Linked DNA regions of Homo sapiens: region 2 is linked to region 1. The links come from fine-mapping of genetic effects on gene expression. A gene starts in region 1. The other region holds a variant in brackets. All regions are shown on one strand. Distances are between the middles of the regions.

What was found.
Region 2: its variant is fine-mapped to the expression of MEDAG in adrenal gland (GTEx, PIP above 0.99).

What each region holds. Positions count from the first base shown.
Region 1 is chr13:30,903,026-30,911,357 of GRCh38, reverse strand. It overlaps MEDAG (mesenteric estrogen dependent adipogenesis), which reads right to left and starts at 5,087. Exons shown (of 5, transcript NM_032849.4): 1 at 4,565-5,087. The coding sequence starts at 4,842. All of the region lies in intron 2 of TEX26-AS1 (TEX26 antisense RNA 1), which reads left to right. RefSeq lists an enhancer at 3,985-4,486.
Region 2 is chr13:30,876,676-30,885,007 of GRCh38, reverse strand. It overlaps LINC00545 (long intergenic non-protein coding RNA 545), which reads right to left and starts at 2,446. Exons shown (of 2, transcript NR_103813.1): 1 at 2,349-2,446; 2 at 1,613-1,914. TEX26-AS1 (TEX26 antisense RNA 1) reads left to right here. Exons shown (of 4, transcript NR_038287.1): 3 at 948-1,070; 4 at 1,673-2,173. The variant C/T (reference allele first, on the strand shown) is at 3,850.

The sequences.
Region 1 (8,332 bases):
AGGAAAGATGGTCAGGTGGCACATTGCTGTAGACTCATCAGATCTGAGTGTGATTTCTGTCTCTGTGACCTCAGCTAGTGTTTTAACCTTGCAGACATTCATTTTCCTCACCTGTAGAATCTGGCTAAAAAAAGGCACCCCATGAGTGGCTAAGAGATTCAATAATGTGTGTAAAGCTCTTGGCTTCTGGTGCTGCTTAATGGTATTATTACTATTCCCACTTTATAGTTGAGGAAATGGAGTCCCATGGACAATAAGTAAATTTCCCAAGGTCATTCAGCTCGCAAAGAGCAGAGCCCTTCCTCTAGACTGACTCTCCTAAAAATCTCACAGCTCAATGCATGGATGGTTATTATTTCACCAACATCACTGTGTGTCCTGCTAAGGGGCTGCTGTCCTAAGCAGGTTGCTACATCTAAGACCACATCTTCCAACCTCCCAGCCTCAAGTTGGAATCTCTTCTGAGAACTGGGCCTGGGCCAGCAGACAGAGCCCAGCACTTCCCACTGCAGGATGGAGGTGAGGCTTCCCCCAGTAAACTTCCAAGTGTGTTCCAGCCCTACTGTCCTCATTTTACCCCTATGAGTGCCGCTTCACCTCACCTGCATTCTCCGCCCTGAGTAGGTGTGACTGTCACCCATCCAGGAGCAGGTCACAGCTCTGCTTTTAGTGGCTTCCTTAAAATCACTGCACTTACTTACTTTTGTAGGCTGATTGTACAAAATGTGCACTAGCTGACATAATTCCAGTTATTTATTTGTAGATTCAGGAAATGAGTGAGAAAGCAAGATTATTTCAGGTTCAAAGTAATTTGCTGAAAGCATAGGTTCTCCTGGTTCTCCCACTTAGCAGCATCTTACCTAGGTAAATTACTTAAGCTCTGAGTCCTAATGCTTACATCTGTAAAAAGGAGAAACAACAGTAATGCAAACTTTGTAAACTTTTATGAGATAGTAGCTGTGAAATACTTTACACCATTCGAGTAAATGTTAGTAGCCACCATTTCTATTGTATTTATTTTTATTCTCCAGGCAGCCTCTTTCATGCTAGGGGAGCACCAAAAAGAAGGGACTCCAGGTCTTCTTTGCCAAACGTTTGCCATTATATTTCACCAAGAGGCTGCTTTATAGGAAAAAACATGTGTGTGTGTGTGTGTGTGTGTGTTTGTGTGTGTGTCGTAGTTAATGGTAATTTTGACTTTTAAGTATTGAATGAATGGCTCCCTGAATGACCATTACCCACATCTCGTGTCCTGAGCACATTGTGTTTACAACATGGGCGAAAATCCTGATCTTGAAAGAAAATAATAAAAATAAAGATCTTGCCATAAATCCTACAAAATAGGACAAATATTTTTAAAGTAGGTTTTTGAAGGAGCTTTAGAGCTGGTGGTCATCACTAAACCTTCCCACTATGCTGGATTTCTTTAGGTTACTTAGTAGGTATGTACTTAGAAAAAATGTTAAAGTATTAGAAAATGAACCTAAGTAGGGCTGCTAAAATCATCCTGTTGCTCTCTTAGCGAGTGAATAACCTGAAAGTCAAGGTCGGTGGCTCTTAGCCTTTCGGGGTTCCTTGGAAAAGGGCCTCATGAAAGCCACAGTACATACTTATGAGGTCCCAGAAAGAAATTCTAATTACACCAGGGGCTTATCCCATATGCCAAAAATATTTGTTGAGTTAAAAAGAACTAATTAATTAATAGAGCAAGGATTCTTAACCTGGGTCCAAGTATCTCATGAACATCCTGGATGGTCAGCAAAAATTGGGTATATATTTACATTTCTGGGGAATCTACGTAGAATTCTCAAAAGTTCTATGGTCCAAAATGATTAAGAACCATTTTGCCTTTTGGGATCCCTGGCCATCTTGGTGGCTGCTTTTGGTTAGAGGCCATCCCACATCCAAGGCCAGAATATGGTGGCCGCAAAGAAGACGAAAAGTCACTGGAGTCCATCCACTCTAGGCTCCAACCCATTAAGGGTCAAAAATACAAGCTGGGGCAATCCGGCTCTGAAGATGATAGACAAGGCAAAGTGAAACCGGTCATCCCCACCAACTGCCTGGCCTCGAGGAAATCTGAAATACAGAACTAAGGTGCATACTCTCAAAACTGCCATCTACCACTCCAGCAGTAATAACATTAAATTGGGCACAGCATGTGGAAAATACCATAGCAAGTGCACCCTGGTGTCACTGATCCAGGGAATGCTGAGATTTTTTTTTTTTTTTTTTTTTTTTGAGACAGGGTCTCACTGTGTTGCCTAGGCTGGAGTGCAGTGGCACCATCTCGGCTCACTGCAAGCTCCACCTCCAAGATTCAAGCCATCCACCTCCCACCTCGGCCTCCTGAGCAGCTGGGACCACAGGTGCATGTCACTATGCCCAGCTAATTTTTGTAGACAGGAGGTCTCACTATGTTGCCCAAGCTGGCCTCGAAGTCCTGGACTCAAGCAATCCGCCCACCTCAGCCTCCCAAAGTGCTGGGATTACAGGCATGAGGCACTGCACCCAGCCCTGAGATCTTTGGAAGCATGCCAGAACAGACTGGTGAAAATAAATCATGCAAATCTTTAATAAAACTGGCCAGAGCTTATTTTTCAAAAAGAAGGAAGGAAGGAAGGGAGGGAGGGAGGGAGAGAGGGAAGGAAGTGGGGAGGGAGGGAGGGGAGGGAGGGAGGTTTTATGCTATCTCTAAAGCCAAAAACAACTGGCAAATTTGGCAGCTCAGAGGAACGAAGCTTTAGATATCTGAGTTCTGGCTTCGGCATACCTCCCACCTCCTGATTCCCGAGGGCAGAACCTCTCACTGCTGCCCACAGTCCAGTCCTCCCCCTCTGCCTGGAAGGCTGTCTCCATTTAGACCACATTCCCTCCTGGCCATCCTTCAGGACTGCACACTCAGTTATAAAAGCCTCCTTCCCTGCCTGAGGACAATAGATAGCTCCTTCCATCACCCAAATTATTTTCAGAGGCTCCTTGCTATTTCCCAGGTACAAAAGAAGCCCTCACAGTATTGCTTATACAATGATAGCCTATTATTTGTTGTTTTGTATTTGCACCCTGGTCTGTGTTACCTGGTCACTGTGGCCCAGTTGTTTATTCTAGATTCAAAGCTGTCAGGGGAATCACTGTTGTTTAATTTTCTTTTGTGTAGGAGGTGTTCAAAGCAAAAGTTAGATGACAGACTTCAAAATCATTTCAGATTCTGCAGCACTGTTTGCTACAATTAGGAGAACTGGTTCTGTCAAAACCCTAACTTACGGCTTCGTTCATTCTGGACATTTTTATTTTTCATACCCTGCTCTCAAATACAATGGGTATCTTCTTTTTAAATCTGCACACATCTGACTCAGTTCCTCCCACAGTCCTCCGCTTATGGTTTGGAATTGGAATTTTCATTTCACTAAGAAAGGGAGAAATTCTTGCTGGGGAATGGTTCTTCAGGCATTCAGAGCCCTCACTATCTTTGGAAAAGCAAGGTTTTTTCTCCAAGAGTTTTGAAGACTGCACGTTCAATATCTCATTTTGTTTGCTTCCCTCTCTTGGCTCCCTCCTACCCACAGGGTGCCACAGCACGCTGTCTTTCCCAGTAGCAAAGGCGCTGTGTCTCAAAAGCTGGCTATCTTATTCATTTCTGAGTCAAACTCTAGACCATGCTTGCCTCTTCAGGCACTTGGCTCTCTCAGCACAAATATAACAGGTCTTTGCACTCCAGGCCCTTGCCAAGAGTGAACTCTGGAGGCCTGAGGCCATGTGGAATCAGGCCTGAAGTGCCCTCCTTTACCCTGTGGCACCAAAGCCTGCTTCAGATGGCTGGGCCACATCCTGCCGGTCTGCCAAGAAGAGCTTGGGGGCACTCTGGCCACAACAGTCAAGCATCCTGGGGGCCTCCTTCCCATTAAGGCCCTCAGGTTTCGCACTTATTTCCCCAGAACTTATCTGTGCCTTCCACAGCCCACATGGCCCCGGGCTGGACTTCCAGGGGCTTTGTTCCCTTCTCAGCTGCGGTTTATTTGTTTACTTTTGAAACACGAAGTGAGGCCAGAGATGGGAAACTTTGAGCTTTTGCATGCTTCTCCACTCGGTCTCCTCACTGGAGAGGGCTGGCAGTGCTCAGAATGGTGCATGCCCCCTGCTCCTCACCGCCACCCATGCTCCAAAGCCAGGATGTGAGTCTTGCAGAGCTGCAGACAGCCCCTAAAGGGTGTGCTCCCAATTTGAGCTCATCTGACCCAGTTAAGGAGCCAGAATGGGAGAAGCATCTGCCACTCATGAGCTCTGGCTGGGGGGCCCCTGCCCTCCCCCTCGCCCCCAGTCCTGATGCCCTTCTGGGCGGCTTCAAGCAGCAGCTGCAAAATGTCAGTGCAAGAGGCAGAAGAACCAGGGCGAGCGTGCAGGCTCCGGGTGATAGAAGCAGAAGGAAAGTCTAGAAGCGCACGGAGCAAGGGGCCACGCGGTGTCGCAGGCAGCGAGGACAGCCCAGGCTCCCAGAGACCGCAGCCGGGTGGAGGCGTCTGCGGGTACCAGGCGACGGGCCAGGGCGCACGGCGAGGCCACCCACCTCTTGATGTAGCTGCTGAGGCGGTAGAGCTGCCCGTCGAGGCGCACGAGGCCGTCACCGAAGACGTTGAAGCCCCCCCGCGCCGCCGCCGGCTCCCCGGGCCTGGCCACCACGAGCTGGTCGCCGCTCAGCTGGAAGGCACCGGGCTGCAGGCGCAGCAGCTGAGCCAGCGGCAGCAGGGCCAGCTCGCAGTCGCAGGTCCACAGGCTGCGAAGCTCCCCAGACGAGATGGAGGTCAGGCTCGGCCTGGCCACCGGCTCGCAGGCCGCCCCCGCCATGCCCGCGTCGTCGGTCCTCACACCGCCTGCTTCCGTCCGGTGCCTACAGCCCCCAGCCGGCACCTGATGGTCCCCAGGAGGGGCCGGGCGCCCTGCCTGCGTCAGCCGCGCGCGAGGTGAGGAGGGGGTCGGTCTGCCCGCCTGGCCGGGACGCGGTGGCCGCTCAGGTGCCAGTCTGACCGCCCGGGCGGCCCCTCCCAAGCTGCCACTCGCTGGGAGCCCTGCAGGCACCGCGCGGAGAAAGCGGCCCCGGCGCAGCGCGGCCCCTTTTATCCGCCCTCTGGACGCCCGCCTCGCCCCTGCCGGCCCACGGCCACGACCCCAGAGGCTCGGGGCAGAGTTATCATCGTCTCATAACTTGGCATGCTCGAGTCTGCTCGCAGGCAAGGCTTAGTCATCCCCCTGGGGTCCACTACTCAACACCAGCGCTGGCCCCCGCCCTGCCTGGCGGACACTGCCGGAGGCTGGAGGTGGGGAGAGTCCTCCCCGGGTTCCCAGGCCCTGCCTATGGTGGGCGGCAGGGCGCACAGCACCCATCCTTGCCTAAGACACCACACCCCTGGTGTTGATTGGAGAAGAAGGCAAGGGCTCTGGCCCTACCCATTCCACCTGGGACCCAGAGGCTGTCAAAGGCCAGTGCTGGAACTCCGATCCCCACCTCAGTACCAGACCTCTCACTCAGCCTCAGTTTTCTGCCATTTTAACTCCATCCAGATCGTACCCTGCATTTCCCTCCTTTCAGCCTTTCCTTCAGCTGGTTGCTGGCCCTGGATCCCTTCCCCCTAGAAATCCCACTGATCATCACATCGCTTTTCCATAAAGCCTTCACGAATCCCACGAGGGTTTCATCGCTTTGCTTCTCCTTTCTACTGCACGGTGAACCCTAGACTGCAATGTGCCGTGTAGTGGGGATAGCAGGGTCCTAGCATCCTCCCTTCTCCCCTGCCTCCCCAGTAGGTGGTGATCTCCTTGAGCCCCAGAATATGTTCATTTCTTCAGTCTATAAATATGTGAGTGCTAGCTATGGGCTCATTGATCTCCTGAGGTATGAAAGGAGAACTATATTATTCCATTTAATTAAACACCTATTTCTGCTGCGGAGAAGCCTGGATGGGATGGGAGGAGAATCTAGCCTAGTTTCGAGGCTTTCTGTAGTACTGTGTTTTAGGATTCTAAGCTACATCCCAAAAGTTGAGTAGAACGTAGAGAATATCCTTAGTTAGTCTTTGTGTGCCCCCACATGAACTCTTGTGTAGGTTTAATCAGATGGGATGAAGAGTCCTCCCGCCACATCTCATTTAAATCTCAGAATATAAATGAGCCCCACTCTCTTCTCTTCTTCTAGGTGCACACCTATCCTTTCTCCAGACATGGATCTTTTACCCATGGGATCATTACCCCATCTCTGGGCCTCTCTGAACAAATCTAATTCACTGAGCATGAATTGATCACTACCCACTCAACCTTTTGTGGCGCAGGAAGGATGCTCTACCTGTGAAAAAAGCATCCAGAAGATCTTCTTGCAAAGGGAGGTTTGAGGATCCCTGCAAAGAGAATGGGTCTGGGGTGGGCTGAGACTGTAGACAGGACTCAGAGGCTGGGGCTGTTTTCACAGGGGAGGGATTTGGTGCCAGCAGTTAAATCCATTGTGCCCTATTTAGAACTTCACTCTTGTCCCAAACATTGACAGAGTCATCACTATGCACCAGGGACCATCTTAAGCTCTGAGGTCACACACACACACACACAAGGATCCAATAAGTGCTACCATAGATGTATGGACTAAGCACTATGAGAAATAAGTGGTTCTGCCCCAAGAAGGGTGCTCAAAGGAGGTGACACATGGCTAGACTTCCAATACACAGGGGAGGCTCCCAGGGGAAGGAGCAGCAGCAATAAGGAGATGGGAGAGAAGATTCTGTACCATTCTATGCAAAGAGAGATGCTATGGTTCCATCTGGGGGAGGGGGGAAATTTTTAAACAGCTAGGGCAGACCATCCTATTTGGGATAAGAGGGGTCAGTTTTATATGAGATGAGACCAGAAAGGGCTGTTGGAGCCAGATTGTGACAGACCCTCTGAGTTGTCAGGAATTTGGATTCTTAAGACAATGAGGAGCCTTGGGATGTTTTAAAGAAAGGAAGTGATATAATTATGCCTCAGTTCAGATAGACACCTTTGGTTATGACCAAAGAAGATGTTTTGAAACAGGAAGATCAGAGGCAGAGAAACCAGTTAGGAGATTGATGTAATAATCCAGATAACATATGATGGGGGTCTGAACAGAAGCAGCTGTGGGAATGGAGATGAGGTTTCAACATTTTTGAGTCAGAGTCAGCAGGAAGGATCTTATGAGTAAATAAATGAAAAAGAGCAGAGAGACCCACTTAGTCTCTTGCTTGGGTACCCAGAGAGATGGTGACACCATTAACGAAGCTAGGGTTCACAGGAGGAAGAGTAGGAGTTTGAGGAGAGATAGTGATGAGTTCAGGGGGGACATACTGATTTTGAGCTACTTATGGAACATCAAGGTAGAAAAGTCCAGGAGGCAAGGAGTTAGTTGGGTCTGGCGTTTTGGAAAGACAAGGTCAATGATTGAGATTTGAAAGTCTCTAGATCAAAGACGGGGTTGAAGCCAAAGAAGTGGATGGGGGCATCTAGCTAATACATGATAGGGTAGGAATTTGAACCCAGGCCTTTAGTTTACTTCAACATATGTTAATTGAGCATCTGCTATGTTCAGTGCTTTGCTGGAGATACAGAGTTGAATAGAGGATGGCCCCTGTCCTCAAATAACAGGGAGAAATGCAGGAATCAGCATGAACTAGTCTTCTGGCACCATGTCCAAACATGTGGCTGAAATCTAGTTATATTTTGCCTGTGTCTCCAACCTGCTGGTGGAATACAACCTCAACAACAATAACAGCTGCAGAAGTTGCTTTCAATTAGTAAGTCAAGGAGGGCAGGTCCACTACAGAGCCCTCACCAGCCCCTACTCTCCCCATTCCACATAGATCGAACTCAACAACTCACCCTATGAGCTTCACATAGATCAAGCTCAACAACTCTTGATTGCCCTTAAACCTACACCACACTGTCTATGAATGATTTGGCTTTCTTGAAGGGTAAAATGTTACATCGGGGTTTTATATCAGAATTATATGCATTTGTTTAAGATAAACATACCAGTCCCTCCTATCAAAAAACCGTTTCCTGGGCAGGCACGGTGGCTCACACCTATAATTCCAGTATTCTGGGAGGCCAAGGCATGTGGATCGCCTGAGGTCAGGAGTTCCAGACCAGCCTGGCCAACATGGTGAAATCCCATCTCTACTAAAAATACAAAAATTAGCTGGGTATGGTGTTGAATGCCTGTAATCCTAGCTACTTGGGAGGCTGAGGCAGGAGAATCGCTTGAACCTGGGAGGCAGAGGTTGCAATGAGCCAAGATCGTGCCATTGCACTCCAGCCTGGGTGACAAGAGTCAAAC
Region 2 (8,332 bases), 26 kb after region 1:
AATCATTTTCTTTTCTAACAAAGGGTGGCCAGTAAAATCAAGCTGCAGACATAGAAAGGCAGGCTAGAAGTTTGCACAGGTGAATGCTGGCAGTTGTGCCAATAGGAAAGGGGTTACCTGGGAAATAGGCATGTTCAAAATGGCAGTTTCATCTTCCCTTTTCCTTGCCAACCACATGTGCAGCAGGGGGCAGACAACATGGAGCTCGTCAGGCAAATAGCCCATTTGCATAAGATTAGGGTGGGGAAGCCAGCTTCCCTCAAGCTATGTAAACATCACACTAGGTCCAACCAATCTTTGGGCCCTATGTAAATCAGACACCGCCTCCTCAAGCCTTTCTATAAAACCCTGTGCACTCCACGACCAGCCGGAACTCCCACTCAGGTGCCCTTCTCTCTCTCGCAGAAGAGAGAGCTGTTTTCTTTTCTCTTTCTTTTGCCTATTAAACCTCTGCTCCTAAACCCACTTCCTGTGTGTCTGCATACTCGATATCCTTGGCATGAGATGGCGAACCTCAGGTGTTTACCCCAGAGAATGATGTTTCTTTGGAATTGCTGAAACATATGGTAATTCTATGTTTAATTTGTTGAGGCACCACCATATTGTTTTCCATAGTGGCTGCACCATTTTACATTCCTGCCCATTCCCAATGCATCCGGCTTCCAGTTTCTCAATATCCAACACTTGTTATTTTCTATTTTTTTTTTTCATTAGTAGCCTTCCTAATGAGTGTGAAGTGGTATCTCATTGTGATTTTGATTTGCATTTTCCTAATGATTGATTAGTGATGCTGAGCATCTTTTCATATGCTTATTGACCATTTGTATACATATTATCTTTGGACAAATGTCTATTCAAGTCCTTTGCCCATTTTTTATTTGGACTGACTTTGTTGTTGTTGAGTTGCAGGAGTTCTTATTTTTAAATATTTAATTTTTTTTTTTTAGAGACGGGGTCTCACTGTATCAGCTCAGCTGGAGTACAGTGGTGAGATCAGAGCTCACCGCAGCCTCCGGGCTCCTGGTCTCAAGCAATCCGGACCTCAGCCTCCCAAGTAGTGGGGACTACAGGTGTGCACTACCACATCCAGCTAATTATTTTTTTTCTTTTTGTAGAGATGGAGTCCTACTTTGTTTCCCAGGCTGGTCTTGAACTCCTTGCTTCAAGCAATCCTCCCATCTCTGCCTCCCAAAGTGTTGGAATTACAAGCATGAGCCACTGTGCTTGGCCAGGAGTTCTTTATATATTCTGGATATCAATCCCTTATCAGATATATGATTTGCAAATATTTTCTTTGATTCTCCTTGGGTTGCCCCTTCACTCTGTTGATTGTGTCCTTTGATACATTTGAAACCCTCCTGAGCCCTTCCCTCTGGTATCCTGCCCCTGCTCTCAGGCTGCTCTATCCTTTGCATGGGGTTCTTGGGTATCGGGGTACTCCTCCACCTTGTATCCTGCTGCCTCCCTGGGTGGGCTGCACCCACTGAGGGGTGAGGGAGTGGCAGGTGCTTCATTCCTCTGTGATTTCTGCCCCAGTCCTCTTCTAACAAACGCAAATCCTATTATGAGAATTTGCTAACACGTTTTAAAAATACGCAAATGTATTGGGAGCTTATTTCAGAGACAATTTTTATTTTAAAGAAAAAGTAACTTATATATTTTTAAAATCTAGAGAATGTACAACTCCTCTGCCACAACGTGAGGGAGAGAAGTCTGCAGACGGCTGACTGGTGACGACTGAACAAGACGGAAAGGCAAGTCGCTATGCCCGAAGCCTTTGAAGGGAGCCAGCAGGGTCCATGGGAGGTTCAGGACACATATCTGCAGCCCTGCTTCTGGCCCCACCCTTGGGGAAGCCTTTTGCAGGTGATCCTGGGCCTCTGCTGGGGAAGGCCCCAAGAGGTGAAGCATCCTCTGCAGAGGAGAGAGCACATCCGGAAGTAGAAGACAGACCACTGTCTGGGCTCCGTTTAACTGCTGTGATTTGGGATTGTAACTTACTCCCGTAAAGCCTCAGTTTCCCACATGGAAAATCAAATCGATCATTGTTATAACATTTCACTTTTTTGTTATGTGATGTAATTTACACAGTGCTTTCGTATACGTTATCCAATTTAGCGAAATAATACAGAGCAATGCATTTTGAAAAGAATAAAATGCTTAACATATGTGAGGAATTCTTTTTTCCTTTGAAAACTACTCCGGATGGCTTGGCTATTGTTTAGTTAAGAGAATTATACAATTTTTGAGACATGGTTCCTTATCTTGTGTAGGCTGAAAGGCAATTAAACAATTATTCATGTCAGAATCTGAGGTAAATAAAAGGCTGCTTCAAAGAGTCCACTTACGGAGTGAAAAGCAGTTGAGTAGAAACAGAGAGTGGTCTGTAATTTCCTTCTGGAAGGAATATCCACTCCATATGGCCTGAAGCAAGAATTTCAAACTCCTCTGTGGGGAGAAAGAGACAGAAATAAAAACTTTTAAGTTTTTTTACTCCGATTTGTCCCAGCCATTTTCTGAACAGCCTATGGAAGCCATCCGCTCCTCTAAACAAAAATAAGCTAAGAGACAGAAAGAATGATTTGATTTCCGTGTGTAGGGATGGTTCAGTCATAAATCAGTGTATTTTTTCCAAGAGGAAGGTGCCAGCAACAAAAGTTGGTCATAAAAAGGACATTAAACTTTAGTAGTCTCTTCACTGTTCCCTCCCACATCCAGTTGCCAACAGCAGAGACAACTGTGAGACACAGTGAAATGAAGTGACTGCTCCACTGCTGGGCAACAGGAGACCCGGATGCCAGGCTCCCTGGCAGAAGAAATAGAAAGTCAATAGCAAACACAGATGTCTTCCTCCCTACCACATCACCTCCACTTTTCACCATCGCCTGTGTGATACAACCACCCCGCAATGCCTTCCTCAGCCTTTTACTTCTGTTTCCAGTGAGTCAAGAAAAACTTCTCCAGCTTGCCCTGTGGAGATGAATGAGCCCATAATCCACTTACACGTGTGACCTTTACACAGCCAGGACCCCCATAGAGCAGCCAAACATGCAGTCTTGTAAACAAAAGGAATTTCAAGATAACTCTGATCTTTCACTAATTATCCCAAAGCCCAAAGGGGATCCATATACATAGTCCGAAGCCTACTTTAAGGAGGCATCCTCCCCTGTGTATTCCCAGCCCATCCCATAGTTTCCCACTCTGCAGCTCCAAACTCAACTTGTCCCATCACCAGCCCCCAGCCTCTCTTCTTTCCCTCTCCCCATGCCCCACTACCTCTATTTTTTATTATTGCAGATTGACCAAATGTCTATGAAGCTGCAGCAAGGTTTCTTCTTTTTTGGAGCAGGGAATGGGGAGTGATTGGGCTTGGCTGTGACAGATTGTTTTGGCAGGCTCAGTGGGCAGAGGCGGTGAACACCATCCCAGTAAGTAAAGGGACTGTAGGAGCGTAGAGTTCCCTTAGTTCCTGGCTGGAAACCCAGCTCCCTGCCTCCTCCCATCCATCAAGCTGGGAGCCATGACAGTGTCAGAGCCTGAGCTCCAGCCCAGACTTCTGGGTGAAGTGGTCCCATGGAGCAAAGCTTGGTTTGGAAGATTTGGAGAATGGGAAAGAATGTTCTCTTACCACAACCTCTTCCCCACTGCGGCCCCTTCCTAAGCTGCCATTGAAATCTATTTTTGCCAGAGCAAAAAATGGGGGAAGTGGACAGCTTCTGCCAACAGTGAGTTTGTTCCAAGCCCACCCCACAGTCATGGGTTCCTCAGAGTGTCACTGAATCACAGGACTCATGGAAATCTGCCCATGTCATGAAGATAAACCACTGTGATCACTTTTAAAATCTTTCT[C/T]ATCATGTCCTTGGGAAGATAAAGGGGTGGAACTGAACAGAAAGGGGCAGAGGTGGGACTTTTTTTCACTAACCTTAACCTTCATGCCAAGAACAGAGATCTCTGTTTGAAAGCATGTCTCCGATGACCATTTATTTGCTCTGCCTGGTAAACCTTCGTGTAATGCGTGGCTTTAAGCATTAGTCATTCCCTGCTGGGAAGGAGGTTAGAACTCCAGAAACAAGGCTATTGCAGAACTGGACTGTGTGGGTCACTAAACCACAGGGGAAAGGGTGGAGAAGCAGCTGGTGTCCCGCTTAAAGGTCACAAAGCATTATTTCTACTTTAATACCCAGAGTTCAAGTGGAAATAAACTCAGAAGGTTAAGATCTAAGTGAAAATTAACTGAAGGCAACTGTGCCATTTGGACTCTGAGATGTGCTTGCCTGGGAAAGTGCAAAACACACTGGCTATCTTTCCATGAGCACAGCTGAACAGGAATAGGCATTAATAAGGATAAACATAAAGAAAAAATTGCTAATTATTGGCAGAGAATGCCAAGAAAAGTTGGTGGAATTCTCTTCTTTGGGGACCCTGGGAAAAGAACAGTAACAGTTAGGTACAGAGGCGCCTGGAAGCAAAGAAACTTCTTTCCCTGGGACAGTGGCTCTGTGCTGTGTGTAACCCTGAGTTCTTTAGGTCACTATAGTCTGGGTGAGTGACTCCAGGGTTGTAGGATGCAATAGCCATGCTAATGAAAACTCACTGGTTCTGAGCCCCCTTCCAGAAGTACTGTGGGTACTTTCAGCCTCTTTTCTCCCTGCAGAGTCTCAAAGAGCTCATGTTCTGTCCTTGGTGATTAATACAGATTTCTTGGCTCTTCCCAGCCTGCTAGTCAGTGAACTTAATTTGCCACTTCTGTTGCTAATCATAACTCTTGCCTCAGCATCAAGCTGATCATCCTTGCAGCTGTAGATATTGGCCCTCCTGCACTGGATGCTCGCAGAGAGGGGAAGGCAGTCTCCTAATCACCATTTCTAATAAAAAAACGAGAGGCTTGCATTCTCACTCTCTTGCTGAGCTTCTCCTGATGGAGCTAGCCATGAGGTTCCTGATGGCTGGAGGAAATATGAGGATATCTTCCCCAGAACACCCACCACACCTCTCTCAACAATCAACTCATGTTCCAGGACAGATGCTGTGAACAACAGCAAATGTAGAGCAGGTACTAGAAACTATGATCAGTGCTTTACATAGATGATCTCATTACATCTTTACTGTAAGCCCATGAGGTAGGTACTCTTATGGTCCCTATTCTACAGATGTGCAGAGAACCAGCACCTCAACTCTCTGATTTCAAGTTGAGAGGTTGGGGTTGGCCTGGTTGGCTCTTCAAGTCAAGAGGACATTTTATTCTGTCCCATCAAGTGACCTTTGGGTCACCAAGGCATTAGTTCTCAGTGGATATTGCTGGTGTGCCTGACGGAGGTGGCCATTAGGCCTCCCTCCATTACACATGCCGATAGCTCTTGGTTTTCTTTTATTTGCAATACAATTCAAAAATGTGAATAAAACCTCAAAAAATAGGGAAATGAAGTCTGAACAATAAAAATAGCTGAGATATTGAGTATTTAGTCTTGCCAGGCACTGTTTGCCAAGCACTGTTCTGTGAGGACAGTGCCTGGCAACATTAAATACTCAGTATCTTAGGAGGTAGGTACTATTATCATCCCCATTTTACAGGCCGCCAAGAGGTTAAGTGACTTGCACAAGATTGCACAGCTCTTAATTGGAGAAGCTGGCATTCAAATCCAGCAGTAGCATCGGCCTGTTCCTTGCCAAATACAACAAGGCTTTCTACCTTCTTGGATGTTTATTTCCTACCACACTTTTAAAAACAATTCACCAAACACGTAAGAAGTAGCTAAAACAAGGGGCTCACATTCAATGTGTAATGTAGAGGTGCAGCTTTGTGGTTGGTTCCTTCTTTCAGTTAAGTAATGAAAAATGATACAACACATAAAAATATAACAAAACCGAAAGAGGTGAGTGCCCTAAGGAGGATACAAATACAGCCCTGTGGAAGCTAAAGTGTTGGAAGAGATCCTGCTGAGTTAGGTCCCAAAGAATCACTAGGATCTCCACGAACAGAGATGGGAAACAGACAGTAGCACTGTAAGCAGGAAAAGAACTTCGTGGTGGAAAAGTGTCCTGGGGTCCAGAAATAGTGAGATACTGATATCTGATGGATCAAGTAGGAAGTCATGGATGATTCCAGGATGAAAAAAAATTCATAGATTCATCAGAACAATTAGCAGGTGAAATTTAGCAATATTTTCAACACACCTTCAAAAACACTTGGTAGTGGCACATGGGGCAGAAGAGTCCCATATATATGGATGTCCAGGTTTACACCAGATGTCCTGGCAACCCATCGGGTTAGCAACCCTAACCATTCTCAAGATCCTTGCATGGACAATAAATTATATGACCACCCTGTATCTGGCAAATTGAAAGATAGGGCCCAACACTTAGGTGTATTAACGGTGCTTAAGAAGTCATATTGTGGCCAGGCATGGTGGCTGACACCTGTAATCCCAACACTTTGGGAGGCTGAGGCAGGAGGAGCACCTGCGCCCAGGAATTCCAGAACAGTCTGGGCAACATGGAGAAACCCCATCTCTACAAAAACAAAAAACAAAACATAATTAGCTGGGTGTGGTGGCACACAACTGTAGTCCTAGCTACTCAGGAGACTGAAGTGGGAGGATTACTTCAGCCCAACAGGTTGAGGCTAGAGTGAGCCGTGATAGTGCCACTGCACTCCAGCCCAGGCAACAGAGTGAGAACCTGTCTCAAAACCAACAAACAAAAAACCAAAACAAACCCACAAATAAGTCATATTTTAAAAGCCTACATCTCAATGCCTAGCTAAGCTTTATAAAGAATGCGGGCTCTTTGACACTTGTTTACAATTGCAACCATAGTTGGTTTTGGAAGTGTCAGTTCTTCCCACAACCCTATTTGGTGTGAGCCGTTTTGCACAAGGTAACCCAACTAGTGTCTGCCACAGAGATATGCAGGAAAAGCCAGCCTTTGATGAACAAATAGTCCCCATCTATCTGGAGTTAATGTATAGTAAAGAAAAAACCTGGTTAAACACACACTGGCATAAACTGATAAAGCTAATTTTTATCCAAGCCCACTTTTGGATTTCAAACAACTGAAGTCAAAGAAGTTAATTAAAAACACATAGAGTTGTCAATGAGTTTAAAAATAAAACACAAATTTATTCGAAATAATGAGACTTAACTAACTCTGTGGTAGACTAGTTGGCTAGTCTTTTGCAGAAGAGCCAACCTATTTGTACCTGAGATAAAACATATTCAGAAAGAAGGAAAACTGCAAAGTGGTCCCAGAACAGAGAAAGCAACAAGGAGAAGGCTTAACTGTCCTTTCAACTTTGAGGTGCAATCTGTCTACAGGGCTCCCTTGGGGGAAGCACAAGCTCTTTCTTTTAGTCTGATTTTGTTGATTGATGCTGTGTTGTTGCTGGATTGTATTACTATGTGAAGTTGAAAGGCTTAATGTTAATGTGTCTTAAACTTCAAGACTTGGAATGCATGATCCCATTTAAACTTGACCGTTCTGGGCAATGTGTTTTGATTGGCTGGATGTCTAGCTTGTGCATTTCTGTCATTTCCTAATGTGTGTGGTATGCTTTGAGCACTGCAGACAGGAAACTCACTTTTTCTCTGGCTTTCTTCTGATTTTTCTGTTTCTTGATTATTGGAAAAATGAATAAACACATAAAAATAATAATAAAGTGTCACCCCAAAAGTCTTATCTTTAAAATAATGTGGAATGGCAATGCTAAAAATAAAGCAACTTGAACTAATTTCCACTATGAATAGGGAACAAAGAATCTGCACCTTCCCTGATTTTGGATTCCAGATTCCAAATATTTCATAAATAAAATATGGCCAGCCACATGAATTATAAGGTATATACCATGTGAGTTACATACACAGGGAGAGGTTGTTTTTAAAATTTCCTGCTGGCAAAGTCAGACTTATCCTTCTTTTTTTTTTTTTTTTTTTTGAGACAGAGTCTCACTCTGTCGCCCAGGCTGGAGGGCAGTGGCACAATCTCTGCTCACTGCAAGCTCCACCTCCCGGGCTCACGCCATTCTCCTGCCTCAGCCTCCCGAGTAGCTGGGACTACAGGTGCCCACCACTATACCCGGCTAATTTTTTGTATTTTTAGTAGAGACGGGGTTTCACCGTGTTAGCCAGGATGGTCTCCATCTCCTGACCTCGTGATCCACCCGCCTCGGCCTCCCAAAGTGCTGGGATTACAGGCGTGAGCCACCGCGCCCAGCCAGACTTATTCTCATTGCCACTATTAAACCTGTCAGATAAAACCATTCCAGGATGAAGTTGGAGATACGTCATAGTACATTTTAACCCATTTATGCCTGAGGTTGCAATTTTTTGAGTGTGAA